2 separate regions of the Homo sapiens genome follow, and region 2 is linked to region 1. A link means that fine-mapping ties the variant in region 1 to the expression of a gene that starts in the linked region. Tissue or cell type: whole blood. Region 1 holds a variant in brackets; the other region holds the start of a gene. All regions are shown on one strand. Distances are between the middles of the regions.

Region 1 (8,103 bases):
AACCAGAGAGGAGAAGAGACTTGCCTAAGATCACACAGCAAATAAGTCGTAGGGCTGGAGCTAGAATAATTATACCAGTTTCCACTTACTTAACATTCATGCTAGGTGCTGTGCTAAACATTTATGAGCATTTTCTTGTTTAATCTTCACAACAGTCTGTAATTTACAGATGAGGAAAGTGAGGCACAGAAAAGTTAAGGCTCTGGCCTTGTGCGGTGGCTCACGCCTGTAACCTTAGCACTTTGGGAGGCTGAGGTGGGTGGATCATCTGAGGTCAGGAGTTCGAGACCAGCCTGTCCAACATGTTAAACCCCATCTCTACTAAATATAAAATTAGCCAGGCATAGTGGTGCATGCCTGTAATCTCAGCTACTTGGGCGGCTGAGGCAGGAGAATTGCTTGAATCCGGGAGGCGGAGGTTGCAGTGAGCCGAGATCGCGCCATTGCACTCCAGCCTGGGCAACAAGAGCGAAACTCCGTCTCGGGGGAAAAAAAAAAGAAAAGTTAAGGTTCTTTCCCAAGGCCCTACAGCAAGAAGTGATGGCATCAGACTTAAGCCCAGGCAGGCTGGCCAGGAATTGGGAACAAAGGGTCCTCATGGGGGATGTCATTTTCTGATCCTCCCTGGCCACTGGCCAAGGCTTTCTTTATTTCTGCTGCTTTTCGTAAATGCAGCAAGAAAGGACTTGCCTCATTCCCTGGAATCCAGAACACGTGTGGGGGCAGCCCAACCCAGGGTAGGAATGCACTATTGACCCTCTGGCCCTGGGTTATGCAGTCAAGGAGCAGTTTCCCTGCTCAGGCGGGGGATGGGGTGCAGTGGGGGCTGGGCCTGGAGACCCTCCACAGCCCCTTAGGGACTAAGTCCAAGGGTGCCTGCCTAGGCCAAGCCTGGGGCCAGAAGGGTCAGCCCAGCCTAAGTGGGTGTGGACGGAGAAGCCAAGGATGCCCTAGGAGCACTGAGGCTGCCTAGAAGGGGCTGCCCTGGCAGGGAGTAGCAGGTAGTTCTGTCACCTCCCTCCACCCTGCTGAGAAGACCGGAAGCTTCCTGGTTAAAGATAGGTGCTGGGTTAGTGAGAGGTGCCGTGGGTGGACAGAGGGGTGCTGGCCAGGGAGGCTGGCAGGTTCAGAGCCTCTCTGATCCCAGCAGCTGCTGCCCAACCCATGGCAGCCCCTTGGGTTGCGGCCTCCCCCTCAGTTCTCAGGTTCTCACCTCTCCCCACCCCAGGGCATTTGTGTGCAGAGAAGAGACAAACTCAAGTTTGTTCTGAGTTCCAGGATCCCAGCCACCTCCCTCCCTGGGGTGGCCTGCCTTGGTGGTCCTCCCTCACTTACTGGGAGATCCTCCCTCCAATTCCCCCACCCTCCAGCTCCCCCAGAAGCCCGAGCCAAAGCCAGTATTTGCGTTCACACAGAGAAGGAGCAGCAGAGAGGCTGGGCAGTGGGATGAAGTCAGCAGTCGCTGGTCTCCAGCCCCGAGTCTTGCAATCCGCCTCCTCCCTGGCTCAGTCTCCCTGAGAGCCGCGAGTGAGTGATGGAGTCAATAGCAACGGACTCAGGACAGACATTCCCCTCCCCGGACAACAAAATGTGGAATGTCTCCTTCTCTCCAGACTGGACTCTTGCTATCGGATTATCAATGAATCAACCGCCAACTATTTCGGGAGCATCAACGGCCCCTGGTTGAGACCATCTGACTCTCCACCCTCTGTCTCAAAGCATCAGACACACAACCACAGACACCGTCCCCAGCATTCCTGTCTGCTTCAGGAGTCATGTAGGTTTGGGGAGACAGGCTGGGTCCCGGAAGGTCTGAGGGAGGAGACGGCAGGGCTGAGTCCTGGAGGCCTTGAAGGTATAACTGGACCCATCTTTGGGGTAGGGCTCACGGAGCCTCAGGGACATCTGGCTGGACGCTGCCATCCACTGGTGCAAGACAGGGGTGGGGATGGGGGGTCAGGGGTAGGAGGAGAATTCATTCCTGGACTGAGGTTGAGGACACCCACTTTTCAAGGTTTTCTGTCTCCCTTATCATGCCCTGGGCAGGATCTTTGTTCACTGACTGTTCCCACTGGCTCCAAACGTCTGGTTAGGGCTATAGTCCTAGCAAGCGCATAGCGCATAGTAGGTGCTTATTAAAGATTTGTTATGAGTCTCTTCAATCAGACCTTTAGTTCCTTCAAGGCCTTATCCCTGTCAGCACCCCACAACACCTTGAATGCAGGAGGTGCCCAATTAACCCTCAGTGGCTGATGGAAAGATGAATACTCACTGCTCTCAAGCCCAAGGGTGCATGGAAAACTGAGGCCCGGCTACCCCACTGCCCCAGGACCCTCTTGATACCCACGGCTCTGCCCTCTCTAGTCCAGGCTTGGCCTCCGGAACCACATACAGGCATACAGGCCTGGCTTGTGCTGGGCACAGTGGCTCCCGTGCAGGCCTCCGAGCCTGCAGAACACCCTGAAGGGCGTTGGCTCCCAGCATCTGCTTTAATGCCCTTCAAAGAGATTTTTAGAAAAATTACCCCTAAGCAGTACAGTCTCTGGCAGGATGGACGCTACAGGAAACAGGAGCCGGAGCAGGAACGACCCGTTCATGTGTAATGTCTGGGGGGAGCAGGGCTTGGTGCAGCCTCCCATGGTGTTTGCTGGGAGCCCCTGAGCCTTTCCTTACCCCATCCCTCCCCTCCTCTGCGTGGGTCCAGACCAATCCCCTGAGCGCTGAGATGCCACGTAAACAGAGCTGTGCATGCACGCAGTGCGCACGCACACACCACTGCTTGGGAAATCCCCACATCTGGCTCTCACGTGACCCAGCTATGCCCAGAAGGCTGCAGCTGAGAGGGCCTGGAAGATGAGAGGGTCGGGAGTGTGCGGCTCTCTGGGGAGCCCCGAGTTAACCCTTCAGCACCACAGCTCGGCGGCTCTGTCTAATGCTAAGCTTCCAGAGAGGGGAGAAGCCAGGAAGGAGGCCTGGTGCTCAGTGCTCAGCCCTGGCCCTGGTTGCCTTTCCCAGCGTGGGAAGGTTGGGACACTTCTCTGGGCCTCACTGGTCTTGACCTGGGATGTGAAAGGGCTGCTCTTTCCCTGTCCTGTCAATCCTGGTCAATCATCAGCCTCTCGGGAGTTCTCACTGGAGGGAGATTCCTTCCCTGATGGAGGATATTTCATGTGCATCTCCTAGTGTCAGGAACCTGGCTGCAGGACAGTGATCCTGGAATCACAAGGAGTCAAGATTCATGGCCTCCTTTGTCTCCCAGGAAACGGCTGGGCTCTTCCTAACAATAAGGAAAAGGTGGGAGGTGGCTCCTGGGCCAACACATATTAATTAGAACATTTTAAACTTCAATAATTTTATTGAACAAGTAGCAATCTGCAATAGCTCCTCTGAAACAGAACCACACAGTAGGTGCTCCAGGGCTATGAAAGAGATGCCCCACATGGAAGACGTGGCACATGGGGACAGTGGCTCCTACCACTGAACAGATGTCCTCTGCACAGGTACTGTCCTCTTCACCCAGCTGACCCATTTAGAAAGCTCAGTAAATTAGGCTCAGCAGCCATGCAGGTCTGTGTGCCTTGCTCAGAGACCCCTACATGGCGTGGCCCCAGCCCCGTGCAGCACTTGTGACACTGTTTTAAAACTGCTGTTTCCTTGCCCACCTCCCCCATCTGGCCAGGAGTCCTCTGAGGACAAGGACCTCATTGTCTCCATCTTGGTATCACTGAGGTTCCATCACAAGACCTGTCAGATGTGCAGTAGACAAACCTAGAAGGCAGGCACAGCCAGAGCCAGAAAAGCCAGCTTTAGTCTGGAAGGAGCCACCTCATCCCAGAAGGAAGACCTAGTACCAGTGTCCATTCAGAAACTTGCTTCCTATCCACTAGCCTTCAAGGGTACCCTCCCTGCGCCCCAGGAGACAGCTGCCTAGTGTCCACTGAGCCATGGGCTTGGAGCAGAAGGAGCGAGCCAAGTCATGGAGGAAGGGTGGGGGAGAGGGGAGTTCCCCTGACCAGAACCCTGTGGCCAAATGCAAATGAGCAACTCAGAGCCAGCAGGCTCCAGGACTGTGTATGGCAGGAGCTCACAGGCCAGAAGAACTTGTCCCACCCTGACAGATCTGAAATGAGGGATGTTAAAATCTGCATATTTGCAAGGTCCCCCTGGGGGGGCCATTGCCAACATACAAAGACAGTCTTAGTTTGGTCTGTTGTCACCAGCCTGTCATCACTGCTTAGCATAGCAAGGATCTGACCCTCCAGCTGGGAAGTTATGTACCCAGACCTGATCCTCTTCCAACACTCAAAGAGCCTAAGGTGCTCCAGGGCTGAGCTGAGGACACCCTTACTCACAGGGATCCAGAAGCAGTGACAAGGGGGAGGATGGTGAAGAGATGGCCAGCTCTGCCTTCTCTTTTATTTTATTTATTTATTTATTTTTTGAGATAGAGTCTCGCTCTGTCACCCAGGCTGGAGTGCAATGGCGCCATCTCTGCTCACTGCAACCTCTGCCTCCCCGGTTCAAGTGATTCTCCTGCCTCAGCCTCCTGAGTAACTGGGATTACAGGCGCCCACCACGACACCAAGCTAATTTTTGTATTTTTGTAGAGACAGGGTTTCACCATGTTGGCCAGGCTGGTCTCAAACTCCTGACCTCAAGTAATCCGCCCAACTCGGCCTCCCAAAGTGCTGGGATTACAGGCGTGAGCTACCACACCCGGCCTGCCTTCTTTATGTTTTATTTTGAGATAGGGTCTTGCTCTATTGCCCAGGCTGGAGTGCAGTGGTGCGATCACCATTCACTGCAGCTTTAACCTCCTGGGCTCAACAATCCTTCTT[T/C]GCCCTCCCGAGTAGCTGAAACCACAGGTGTGTGCCACCACACTGGACTAATTTTTTATTTTTGTAGAGAAGGGGTCTCACTAGGTTGCCCAGGCTGGTCTCAAGCTCCTGGGCTCAAGTGATCCTCCCACCTCAGGTTCCCAAAGTGCTGGGATTACAGGCGTGAACCACCACACCCAGCAAACTCTGTTTCTGAGCACAAGGAAGCAAAGGGACTTTCTAACATGACCCAGTTGTCTTGGTGCAAGACTTTATTCTAACAATAAATAACAAAATACATTTTCAAGCTGGCTGCTTGGGCCACACATGGCAATGATGAAATCCAGGGGGCAAGGCAGAAAGAAGAGAGTCAGGGAAAAGCATGATTTTCCTGTAAACTTCTAAGTTTTATGGAAACTCAGGAAAAAAATATTTTTTTCTTTCACACTTCGAAACAGACCAATTCTAAAAATGCCACGTGCCGACTAAGTTACACACACCACTTTTCTGTTTCTAAAAGTAACTTTAGATTAGAAAAAGGTGCTAAAACAATAAGTAATGCACATTTCCCCCATGTCTTTGTTTTTCCGCCGGCTTTGTCATCACTGGAAAGGTTGCCTCTTCTGTCACGTGTCTATAAACCAAACGCTGAAGTGAGGAACCAGTGACTTTCTGGCCGTGGGCCACGGTGGGAAACATTTCTTTGCTGGACCACAATTTGGGTATTTCCTCCCCCAGCAACAAAACCTTCTGGAAATGAAAGGCAGATGGTGTCTCTCATCAGGTCAGGGCTGGGTAGGCCCCTCAGATAGCCATTCTCCAAGACTCCAAATGCTGGGCTGTGTTTCAGGGGTAAGAGACTTGGGAGTCCTGTCCTCCATTCCTGCCCCCGTAGCCCACCCTCCCATCTCAGGAGACAACTGAATGTTCTTCAAGGAGCAGTCCCATCCAGGCATCATCCAGGCACCATTCATCTTGGGGATGCCAATCCCCCTGCCATCTTGCTGCCTGTCTACCCTGAACATGGCCATCAACCCACATGGATGACCCATCAAAGACGCAACCCTAGCTTGATTTCAGAAGCCCTGGGAAGCCTGTCAAAAATGCAGATTGGCTGGGTGCAGTGGCTCACGCCTATAATCCCAGCACTCTGGGGGGCCAAGGCAGGAGGATCTGCCTGGCCAACATGGTGTAACCCTGTCTCTACTAAAAATACAAAAATTAGCCAGGTGTTGTGGAGGGTACCTGTAGTCCCAGCTACTCAGGAGGCTGAGGCGGGAGAATCACTTGAACCCAAGAGGCAGAGGTTGCAGTGAGCCAAGATCGCACTACCACACTCCAGCCTGGGTGACAGAGTGAGACTCCATCACACACACACACGCGCCCGCGCGCGCGCGCGCACACACACAAAATGCAGATCGGCCAGATGCGGTGGCTCATATCTATAATCCAGCACTTTGGGAGGCCGAGGTGGGTGGACTGCTTGAGGAGCTTGGGAGTTTGAGACCAGCCTGGGCAATATGGTGAAACCCTGTCTCTTAAGAAAATGAAAAAATGCAGATACCTGGGCGTCACTCCAGACACGCTGATTCAGTAGGTCTGGGCAGGCCCTGGGAATCTGTATTTCAATGAGCAGACTCAAGATTCTGCAGTTCACTTTTGCCCATGCAGTTCCCTTTTGGACCAACTTCCTATTTTCCTAGCAGGAGAAACTGGGTGATAGGAGTGAGGGGGCAGAGGCAGCTGTGCAAGCAGGGCTGAGGGAATTGAGGCTTCCAACTAGCTGCCTCCTTCTGGGGATTCCAGGATCCGGGGAGCGCTTGCCACGCCCCTGCCCCCTCCCCGCTCCGCCTTGCTCTGTGTGTCCAGGCCAATTGGGCAGTGGGGCTCAGCCACCTCGAGCCAGGGAGCGTGGCGCAGACACACACGTGAGCAGCACTCACTTTCTCCATCGCATCACCGCCACGTGGGCTGGCCGCAGAGTTGCCAAATCAATCAGGCTCCTTTCATTTCCAATTAGATGGCTTTGAACTCCAAGGGTAAAATCAGGCTGAGGACCCAGAGCCATGCAAATAAAAACTGTTTAAAAACACCAGCCCAGAGGCTGGCTGCGGTGGCTCATGCCTGTAATCGCAGCACTTTGAGAGGCCGAAGAGGGTGGATCACAAGGTCAGGAGTTCAAGACCAGCTTGGCCAACATGGTGAAATCCCATCTCTACTAAAAATACAAAAAATTAGCCAGGCATGGTGGCATGCATCTGTAATCCCAGCTATTCAGGAGGCGGAGGCAGGAGAATTGCTTGAACCTGGGAGGCAGAGGTTGCAGTGAGCCGAGATCGTGCCATTGCACTCCGGCCTGGGCAACAGAGCCAGATTCCGTCTCAAAAAAAAAAAAAACAAAACAAACCACGAGCCTGGGTAAGATGTGCCAGAAGCTGACGCCTTCAAAAGACACGCTCACTTTTGAAATGGGCCATTGGAGGGTGGCAGGAAGATCTTTGCCACATTCTCTAAGTAGCCTGGGCCTTTCTCACTGAGGATGGGTAGCTCAGGAGGACAAGAACGCCTCGGAAATTGCTTTAAAAGGTCTTGCTTATGATACACTCTCCATGACTTCCTTTCCAGACTCATCTCCTGCTCTACCCTCGCTCCTGCCGGGATGATGGGCCCCTCTCCTTCCCTCAGACTTTTCAAGCTCATGCCAGGCCAGGTGTGGTGGCTCACGTCTGTAATCCCAACACTTTAGGAGGCTGAGGCAGGAGGATCACTTGAGGCCTGGAATTCAACACCAGCCTGGGCAACAAAGCGAGACCCTGTTTCTACCAAATAAATAAACAAATCAGTAATAAAAAATAAAGGCTAGAAATGGTGGCTCACACCTGTAATCCTAGCATTCTGGGAGGCTGAGGCGGGTGGACTGCCTGAGCTCAGGAGTTCAAGACGACCCTGGGCAACACAGAGAAACCCCATCTCTACTAAAATACAAAAAAATTAGCCAGGCATGGTGGCGGGTGCCTGTAGTCCCAGCTACTTGGGAGGCTGAGGCACGAGAGCTGAGAAGCGGAGGTTGCAGTAAATCGAGATTGGGCTACTGCACTCTAGCCTGGGTGACAGAGCAAGACTGTCTCCTACATAAATAAATAAGCCAGGCATGGTGGCACACCAGTGGTTCCACCTACTTGGGAGGATGAGGTGGGAAGATCGCTTGAGCCCAGGAATTTAAGGCCACAGTGAGCCCTGATCGCACCACTGCACTCCAGCCTGGGCCATTAAGTAAGACCCCATG
Region 2 (8,103 bases), 180 kb after region 1:
GGTCAACCCTTAATTTATTACCCTAAGCATTACTGGGGACCAGATACCAGCCTGAAGTTGCTCTACTCCTCCTGCCTCACAGTGACCCGCCTGCGTTGCCCACCATGAACTCACCTGCAGGGCACATGGTAGATGTCTCTACAGTGAGGCAGTCCTAAAGACAACCCTGTACTGCTCTGTCACCATGGAACAGGGCTGAGCCTGGCCTTCCTGCCCGGATTCTAATTGAAGAGAAGGGCCCCACCTTATATCCACATCCTCCTTTGGAGCTAACCTGACCTGCATTGCCCTAGCTCTGCCCTGTGCCAGCTGCGAGACCCTAAGCAAGTTGGTGAATTGCTCCAAGTTGCAGTTAATTCATCTGTAAAACAGAATCCAAAAACCTACCCCACATTAGGGTACATTCAATGACCTGCAGGAATCACACGAAAACACGAGTGTTAAGTATGTTTCACCATCGATGGTAACTGCTAAACTGGCTATTATTTGCATTCCCCAAAGAGTCCTGCAGAGGATCAGAACATTCATGATTGGTATTTGTCTGAAATAAACAATCAGGAAATAAAACAACTGTGAAAGTGCAATACCTCCCAAATCCAAATAGATACAATTTCTTGTTTGTTTTAGATAAACGAGCTTTTCTCTACCACATGAATTGATATATACCTATACCTGCCTGTGAGCACAAAGAACCCGGTGGACCTGAATTCAAATCTTTACTGAAAAACTTTCAAACGAAGGAATCTGCATTCTGCATCCAGCATCATCAGGACCATTTTCAAGACAAGCGGTCAGAGGCCAAAGCCAGTTTACCTAGGGTCTCCCCAGGCACAGCTCAGAAAGCCAGGAAAGGAGCCTAGCTTCATGCCAGGGAGCCTGACCTTAGTAGCAGCTGCCTGCCCTTCTCAACCCCACCCCAAGCAGGGGCCTGGCAGAGAAGAAGGAAGCCAGGGCTGAGTGCCATCCCCATGATGGAAGCTACTTGCGTGCCTTCATGAACTGACCGAAAGCACAGGACCCTTCGTGTTCAGGCAGCTCCCCCTCCCCGTGGGGATGAGCAAACCCTTTGCAGAATGTCCTGAGAGAACCTTTGCAGTGTGTTCCCAGCACTCTGGAGCCAGCAGAGCTCCTCCTGCGTGGGCCCCAGGCCTCTCATCGGCTAGCTCTGGCTAACACGCACATCCCGTAAAACCTCTCTGCTCTGCAATTTACCAAACCACAGACTCAGAATTCACCATCAGCAGAGGAAAGGCTGGAAGGAGGCTTGCTCCTCCAGTGTAGAGGGTTTCCAGAACACAGGCAATGGGTGCAGCACGTCCTGCCAGCTGACCACACCAGAGGGCCTTACTCACAACACTTGAGCTTTTGGTGTGTGGTATTCACCGTGCAAGGGCCAGGAGAGGAAGAGGCTGCAGCCTCCCCAAACCCGCTCCTCCTGCCCCTGTCTGTCCCACCAGGCCCTTTCTATTGCTTTCTTTCCCCCTTTCAATTATTGGATATGCTTATGTTATGTATTAATATATACAATGCCCCAAATGGGTAGAAACTTTTTGACCACCAGTTATTTGTCCTCTTAGCCAAACCCAACTGGACTTAGGGTACATGCAATGAAAAAAACCCAGCTGTGAGCAGCTGTGTTGCAAGTTACTTTACCCAATCTGGCTCTCCATTTCCTCATCTGTAAAATGAAGGAGTTGAGCCAGATGAGTCTTCGGGTCTCTGCCCGTTCCACAATTCCACAACATGTAACACTTTCTCCTCTCAGTGTTTTCCAGAACTCTAGTTCAGAACTCTGCATGGCCCCATCTGTTCAGTGACATCACTCCCTGCCCCCCCAAACATAATGTCATCGATTCTTACTCGGGAAGCGGAGATGTCCCGGGAAACACTTTGTCTGTAAAAAGGAAGGAAATGATCATTTCGAGGGAACTGGACAGGACTTCTTTTGTGTTTTTCACATAGAACAAGTTATTATCAATCTTAAAACCCAAAATCTTTCTTCCTTTTTGCCAGACCATTAATAGCTGCTTTTCAAAAATACTTTCTTAGTCAGAATCTCACCAATAATAAGCTACCATTTAATAAGAGCTTACTGCGTGCCAGGAACTGGGCTAAGTGCTTTACATAGATGATCTCATTTAATTCTCCCAACAAGTACATACTATTATTATCCTTACTTGAAATTGAGTAAACTGAGGCTGGGGGAGGTTTAAATAACTTGCCAAGGTGGCACAGCTAGTTACTGGCTGCATGCCAGGCTTTGAGCAAGACCGTCTAACTTCAGAACCCCAGCACGCAATCTTGCCTTTCAATCCTGTCTGCAGTGGGCCCCGGTTCTAGTTTGTTACCAGTGTGTCCTGCATCTGCAACCTTGGGCACCATCGGTGGGAGCTGAAATGTGATGTTTCATTTAAAATCCAGAGTTGGAAACGCACCTGCCTGGGTCTCAGAGCAGAGTGCCATCTGTTGAATGCAGTGCCAAGCTCAGCTGAGGACTACAAATGAGAACCCTTAAAACTTAGCCTGCAACATTTGAGAAAAATAAACCCTGGGATATACAAAGGGACATCTGTCCACAGAGCAGGTTGACCACCTGGTGACCCAAGCCCTCCAAAAAGAGCTTTCTTGTAACAGCAGCAGAAAATGCTTGCTGGACCAGATGACACAAAAGAAACAACTCTCTAAGGGTGTCAGGGACTGGACCCGACAGGCACCCACCTCCCTGCCTAGTCAACCTGCCTCCACATTTACCTCCTCCCCATATGAGCCCAGCCGCATTTGCTCAGCTGTAAAGAAACTCAAAGTTCAGAGCTACACTGGTGACAAAGGCAAAAAGAGTAGCCCGAGGCTGACATTGCCACAAACCCCAGTCCCTTTGCAACAGTGGAAGAAAAGGCACTTCAGAGATCAATGTACAATCCAGGGCAGCAACCAGCGCCTGTTTTAACTGTTAAGATTAATGCTTTGAGCACTGGAACTGCTCCTCTAAATACCCAATTTGCAAATAACATGCAGTCCTCTGTGCTTGGGTCTCTTCTATCTCAAGTACAGGAGCACAGACGCTCAGAGGGGTCAAGGACACCGTGTTTACTTCCTAAGGTGTGAGGGATGGGAAGACAGGACCGGCTGAGATGAAAGGGGAACTGTCACATAGGCTCTGGAGCTGCCCCAGTCAACCTTAACCCCTTCTCATTAAAGTTTGGGGGAGGAAGGGGGAGGGGCGGTTCCTCGGAGACCACAGCAAACATTCGCCTCCTCGTGTCTGGAGATGGAGCATCACTTAAGAGGAAATGAACCCGGTTAAGGGTCACGTCCAGAGGAGGGATAAAAGGAAAAGCCACAATTCTCCTCACACCGACGGACACAATGGCTTTATGAGGGAAATCAAAGCTTAGCGCGGAGGGTGGAGGTTGGGCAAGGGGGCGGCGGCTTCCTTCTGCCCCCAGCCCCAGGCCTAGGAAGGCAGAGACAGAGCTGGCGTGGGAGGCAGGGCGCGAGGCTTCCTTCTCCAGGGCGAGCTCTGAAAGCATCTCGGGCTGTGTGAGCGTGAGCGCCCAGGGCCCCTGGGGAGGGCCGAGGAGATGCGCTTTCCCGACGGGGCTGCTCTGTGAGGGGTTGACGAAAGCTCCCCCCACCATCCATCAAAGGCGGACAGATGACTTCACCGTTGTAACAGACAAGGGCAGCCACTTGCCAATTCCAATGCCAAAAAAAGAAACCGGGGGGGCGGGGGTGCGAAGGAGGAAGGACAGAAGAGGCTTCCCTGGAGATCACAGCCCTGCGAAGAAACTCCACGGCTGCTGGCTGCCCAGTGGGCGCTTAGCTTCGCGACCTCACAGCTGGGAGGGGCAAGGGGCCATCCGGGGCCCTCCCGGGACCTCGGGCCACCCCCAGCAGGGTCGGCGGGGGCTGTACTCACGTAGTGCTTGGAGGGGTTCCTCCGCTTCTCCACGTCCACCACGGTGGCATCCTGCACGCAGTAGGCGAGCATCTTCCCCCACAAAGCGAGTGGCGCCCCCGGCGGCGTCACCTTCTCATCCCGGCCGGGCTCCGGCTCCTTCTCCAGCTGCCGGGGTCCCGGGGCCGCCCGCCACCCCGGCCCGGCGCGCCGAACGCTGCCCGGACTCCCGGCGCCCACAGGTCCGGCCCAGGGACGGGGGAGGGTCCCGGAGGGCGCGCGGGCTCCGTGCGCCCCGGGGGACTCCCCGCCGGCCTGCCGCGCGCCCCTTCACTCCCGCGCGGCCGCCGCGCTGCGCTCGCCCGCTCGCTCTCTCCGCCGCCCGGTGGGTCCGGCGGGAACTGGCGGAGCAGAGGAGGGGCGGGGGTGTGTCCCGTCGGCGAGGGGACGGGGCGGGGGCCCCGGAGCCTGCTGTCAGCGTCCTGGGGAGGGGCCGGCGGCTCCCCTTCGCCGCTCTCCGGCTCGGGCTCCGGGGGGATCGGCGCTGGCGGAGGCTGTGGGCGCAGGAGGCGGAGGCAGGGCCTGGCAGGCAGGGAAGGGAAGGGAGGGAGGGGAGAGAGGGGAAGCGCGCGGGGAGGGGCTCCGGGCCGGGGGAGGGGCTCGGGGCGACGGGGAGGGGGCTGCAGCCCGGCCCCAGTGGCAGGGGCGGGCCGACGAGCCCCCACCCGAGCCCAGCGCGCAGCCAGCGGCCTGGCGCAGCACCGGGCTAGTTCGCTAGGCACAAAAACTCAGGGTGGCTTCGGGGGGAGAGGGAGCGGGGAAAGTGAGCCCCGCGCGCCCCCATCCTGGCTTTCCGCCTCGGAGCGGATTTGTGCCTTTTTGTCCCCACTTTTATGTCCCCCTACAACTTCCACCCCCAGATCTCTTTAATGAGAAGTAGTTTATTACCCGGCTGTTACTGCCCAGGCCCCCGAGGAGGAGATGGGAATGGGGAAAAGGCCAGCTTTAAATCCTTCAAGCCAGAGCCTCTTTGGACGAACCACCTGACCCTCTGCAGGTCATAAAGGGTGAATTCTCCCCGGAAAAGTGATCGATTCGTTGCCTGAGTCGTCCATCGATCTGGGCTTGTGTAACTACCCTGTGCATCATTTACCAATGACAACGTTACAGACTCTGCATAACACCACTGCCTTAAGCCCAGGGCTCCCCTGGGGACCCTCCCCAAGCTGGCGACAGGGAAAGGAGCATACAATGGTGGGAAAACCCACCCGGTTGGAGGCCAGCTCACCGTGAGCCCCAGGCTCTGGCATTCTCACCCCTCCCTCTAGTCTGGAAAACCCACTTTCCAAGCCACTTGTCCGTGGTCCCTGGACTTGGAGCACAGTTACTACTTAATTCAATGTAGCTTCCCCCCTTCTAGTTCAACATTTTTTTCCCATTCTGCTTTCAAACATTTAAAGGGTAGTGTTTTCACAACTACTCCAGTTGTTACACAATCACAATAAAGCTTTGTGACTGTGGACCAATGTGAAACATCTGAAAAGAGGACAAATAATTTTGTGACCTAATTGCATTAATACTTTCTTCTGCGCGTTCTCTAGACTGTCAGAACCCAGGCACAGATCTAAGGCTTTATTTATTCACATATTTGCTCCATACAGAGTAACCCACTATTCCTCCAACCTTCCTGGGGAAGGGCGCTAGGACACCAAACGATGGCACGGGACAAAGAAAAAAAAAGATGGATGGGCCTAGGGGGCTCAGACTGTGAGAGATCTTGGCACCAGGCCAGAGCTTCTTGGTCAGAGAAGATGACAGAAAACCTTTGTGAATGTTGGAGCAGGAGTCCTGGGGGAAGGTGCACCTGGTAATGTTGCTCAGCTGATGGGAAAATGGGAGGACAGGGCACTACCTCCATGAGCAAGGATTATTCCCTGAAGGGATGAGAGGTAGACCTGGAACGGGCCCTCCATATTGAGCTCCCGAACTTGGGAGGGTGCTGGCCAGCTCCAGGTCCTCTCTGATGATGGATCAAGACAGCCTGTGAGTTTGTGAGGAAGAGATTCATCATGGCTCTCGGATAACTCGTCTTCTGTGGATGGCAAAGTCTTCTGGAAGTGCTAATAAAACCTGAGAAGCCACCAGCGAGGGGAGCTGGTGTTTAGCTGTTGTGGGGGGAAGAAGAGGAGGGGGTTTAGTTTGATTTGGGTCCCCTTGTGAATCAAAGCAGTCAGCTCATCTAAAACAGCACTAGTGGTTTCCTTATTACCCTTCTTTCGGACCCAGATCCACAATGAACACACCAAGCACAATAAATTTGTAGGAGAGAGGGCCCAGTTCTTCCCCACTTCCTAGCGGCCTACAAAGTGGTAGCCTTTCTCCTGCCTAAAAGACTCCCTGCAACTTGACATTTTATAAATTCAGGCCTTTAAGCCTGACTTGAGCATACTCCCAACTTCCCCCTTTGTTCCGTAATTACCTTTATTGGAGGGAGCAACTGAGTGCTCCCCACTCAACCCCATGGTGCCAAGATCTGGGCAGAAGTTATTTCTACCTGTGGGAGAAAAATGTCTTTTCTGTACTGGGGCCGTATGTCCAAGGGGATTTAAGTATGAAATGGTGCAGGCTATCTCTTCTCTGGGTACATTTCAACCTCATGCAGATTTATTTCCCACAGTGCCTTGGGAATTCCTTTCTGTTCAATACACATTTATTGAATGCCTCACATGTGCCTGGCAATCCCCCAAAAATGACAGAGACTGGGGGAAGTTTCCTTGGAAACAAGGACTGTGCATCATTCATTAAATACCCCAACTATGCGTGGCACACAGTAGGTATATAGGATGGCCTGTGTTGAAAACATCTGCTCAAAGAGCTAGTGCTAGAAAGGATTAGAGAAACCCCTATTTTGCCACCTCCGCCCATGAACTGGAGATGACTCCAACCTAAGGACATTGTGTGAGTTAAAAATGACAAAATATAATTGCAAATTTTTTTTTAAGTTTAGGATAAGTAAGGGAAAGAGAAGCCAACATAAAGATGCAAACTGATACCTGAAAATCTGATTTTCGAAAACAGGTAATTGTAGAATGCTTAGAATCAAAGAACTTTCCAACTAGAAGGGACAAGAGAGGTTATTTATTTCTCTTATTTTACAGAGGAAGAAACCAAGGCCAAGAAAAACTAAGCAAGTTGCTTGATGCCACATAGCCAGTTAGTCCAAAGCCCGCTGTCTTTCCCCTCCACATTTATGTGCCTATACTAGGGCAAGAAGAGCTTGTTTAAAGGGCACACTTAGCACACCTGCAGGTCTAGAATGTTGCATTCACTCAAACCCTGGAGTCCCTGGTTCCAGTTCTCCATTCACACAAGCATATGAACTCGTGATGCCTGGACTTCCCAATAAAGAGGACTGTACAATCCTCTAGAGCAGAGGCCGTGTGTGTCTCCATGGTCCTCTGTGTACGTGCAAATTCCATCAGCTCCCCTAAAGCAGAACCCGCCCTACCTCCTCTCCCATGTAGGGTCTTTGTGACCACCCCCAAAGAAGACAACATGCAGGAAAGTACTGGAAACCACAGTGGGCTATATGAAAGCACAAGAGAACCTTCTCTTCCTCTTCAGAAATCGAATGACAATTGCTAATCATACATTTGTTTACTAATCATACATCACCCTATGACAGCTCAGCCTTCACTGTATTGAACCTTATTTATATCTTTTATTGTTATTTAACTTTCCTGTGCTTTAGGTTGTGCCTTCTAAACCAGTAAGAAGCCTTTGAAGGCCTTGAGGACCATGAACTTAGACATGGACACCACCCTTTCCCTCCCCACCCCCATCATCCAGCACCTCTGTCACCTGCCACACACACCTGCCCACCCAGCGCAGAGCTTTATACATGCCAGGCCCTCAATAAATGGTTGTCTTTTTAAATTACTGGGATCTCAGCAGATATTTGTAGATAATGCTGGGGCTAAGTAATGCCTAAGAAGAAGAAGAATTGGAGTCTCAGAGCAGGAATTACCCAACCTGGGTTCTACTCCTGGCTTAACCACAAACCAGCCTGTGACCTTGAAGTTCTTTCCCACGTCTGGGTCTCTGGTGCTCTTTCTGGCCCTTTCCATGCTGTACAGTGGTGGATAACTTACATAAACTGAGGTCTAGCAAGACTCTCCCCGAGTTGTGTAAATTTGAGTGAAATT

What was found. PIP is the estimated chance that this variant, and not a neighbour inherited with it, causes the effect.
Region 2: it holds the start of SH3PXD2A, and the variant in region 1 is fine-mapped to the expression of SH3PXD2A in whole blood (INTERVAL, PIP above 0.99).

The regions. Positions count from the first base shown.
Region 1 is chr10:103,675,557-103,683,659 of GRCh38, forward strand. All of the region lies in intron 6 of SH3PXD2A (SH3 and PX domains 2A), which reads right to left. Among named protein-coding and RNA genes, the nearest start is that of SH3PXD2A-AS1, 67 kb to the right of the region's middle. RefSeq lists enhancers at 2,822-2,881, 2,892-3,061, 6,425-7,205. The variant T/C (reference allele first, on the strand shown) is at 4,839.
Region 2 is chr10:103,851,276-103,859,378 of GRCh38, forward strand. SH3PXD2A (SH3 and PX domains 2A) reads right to left here and starts at 4,301. Exons shown (of 15, transcript NM_001394015.1): 1 at 3,920-4,301. The coding sequence starts at 3,991.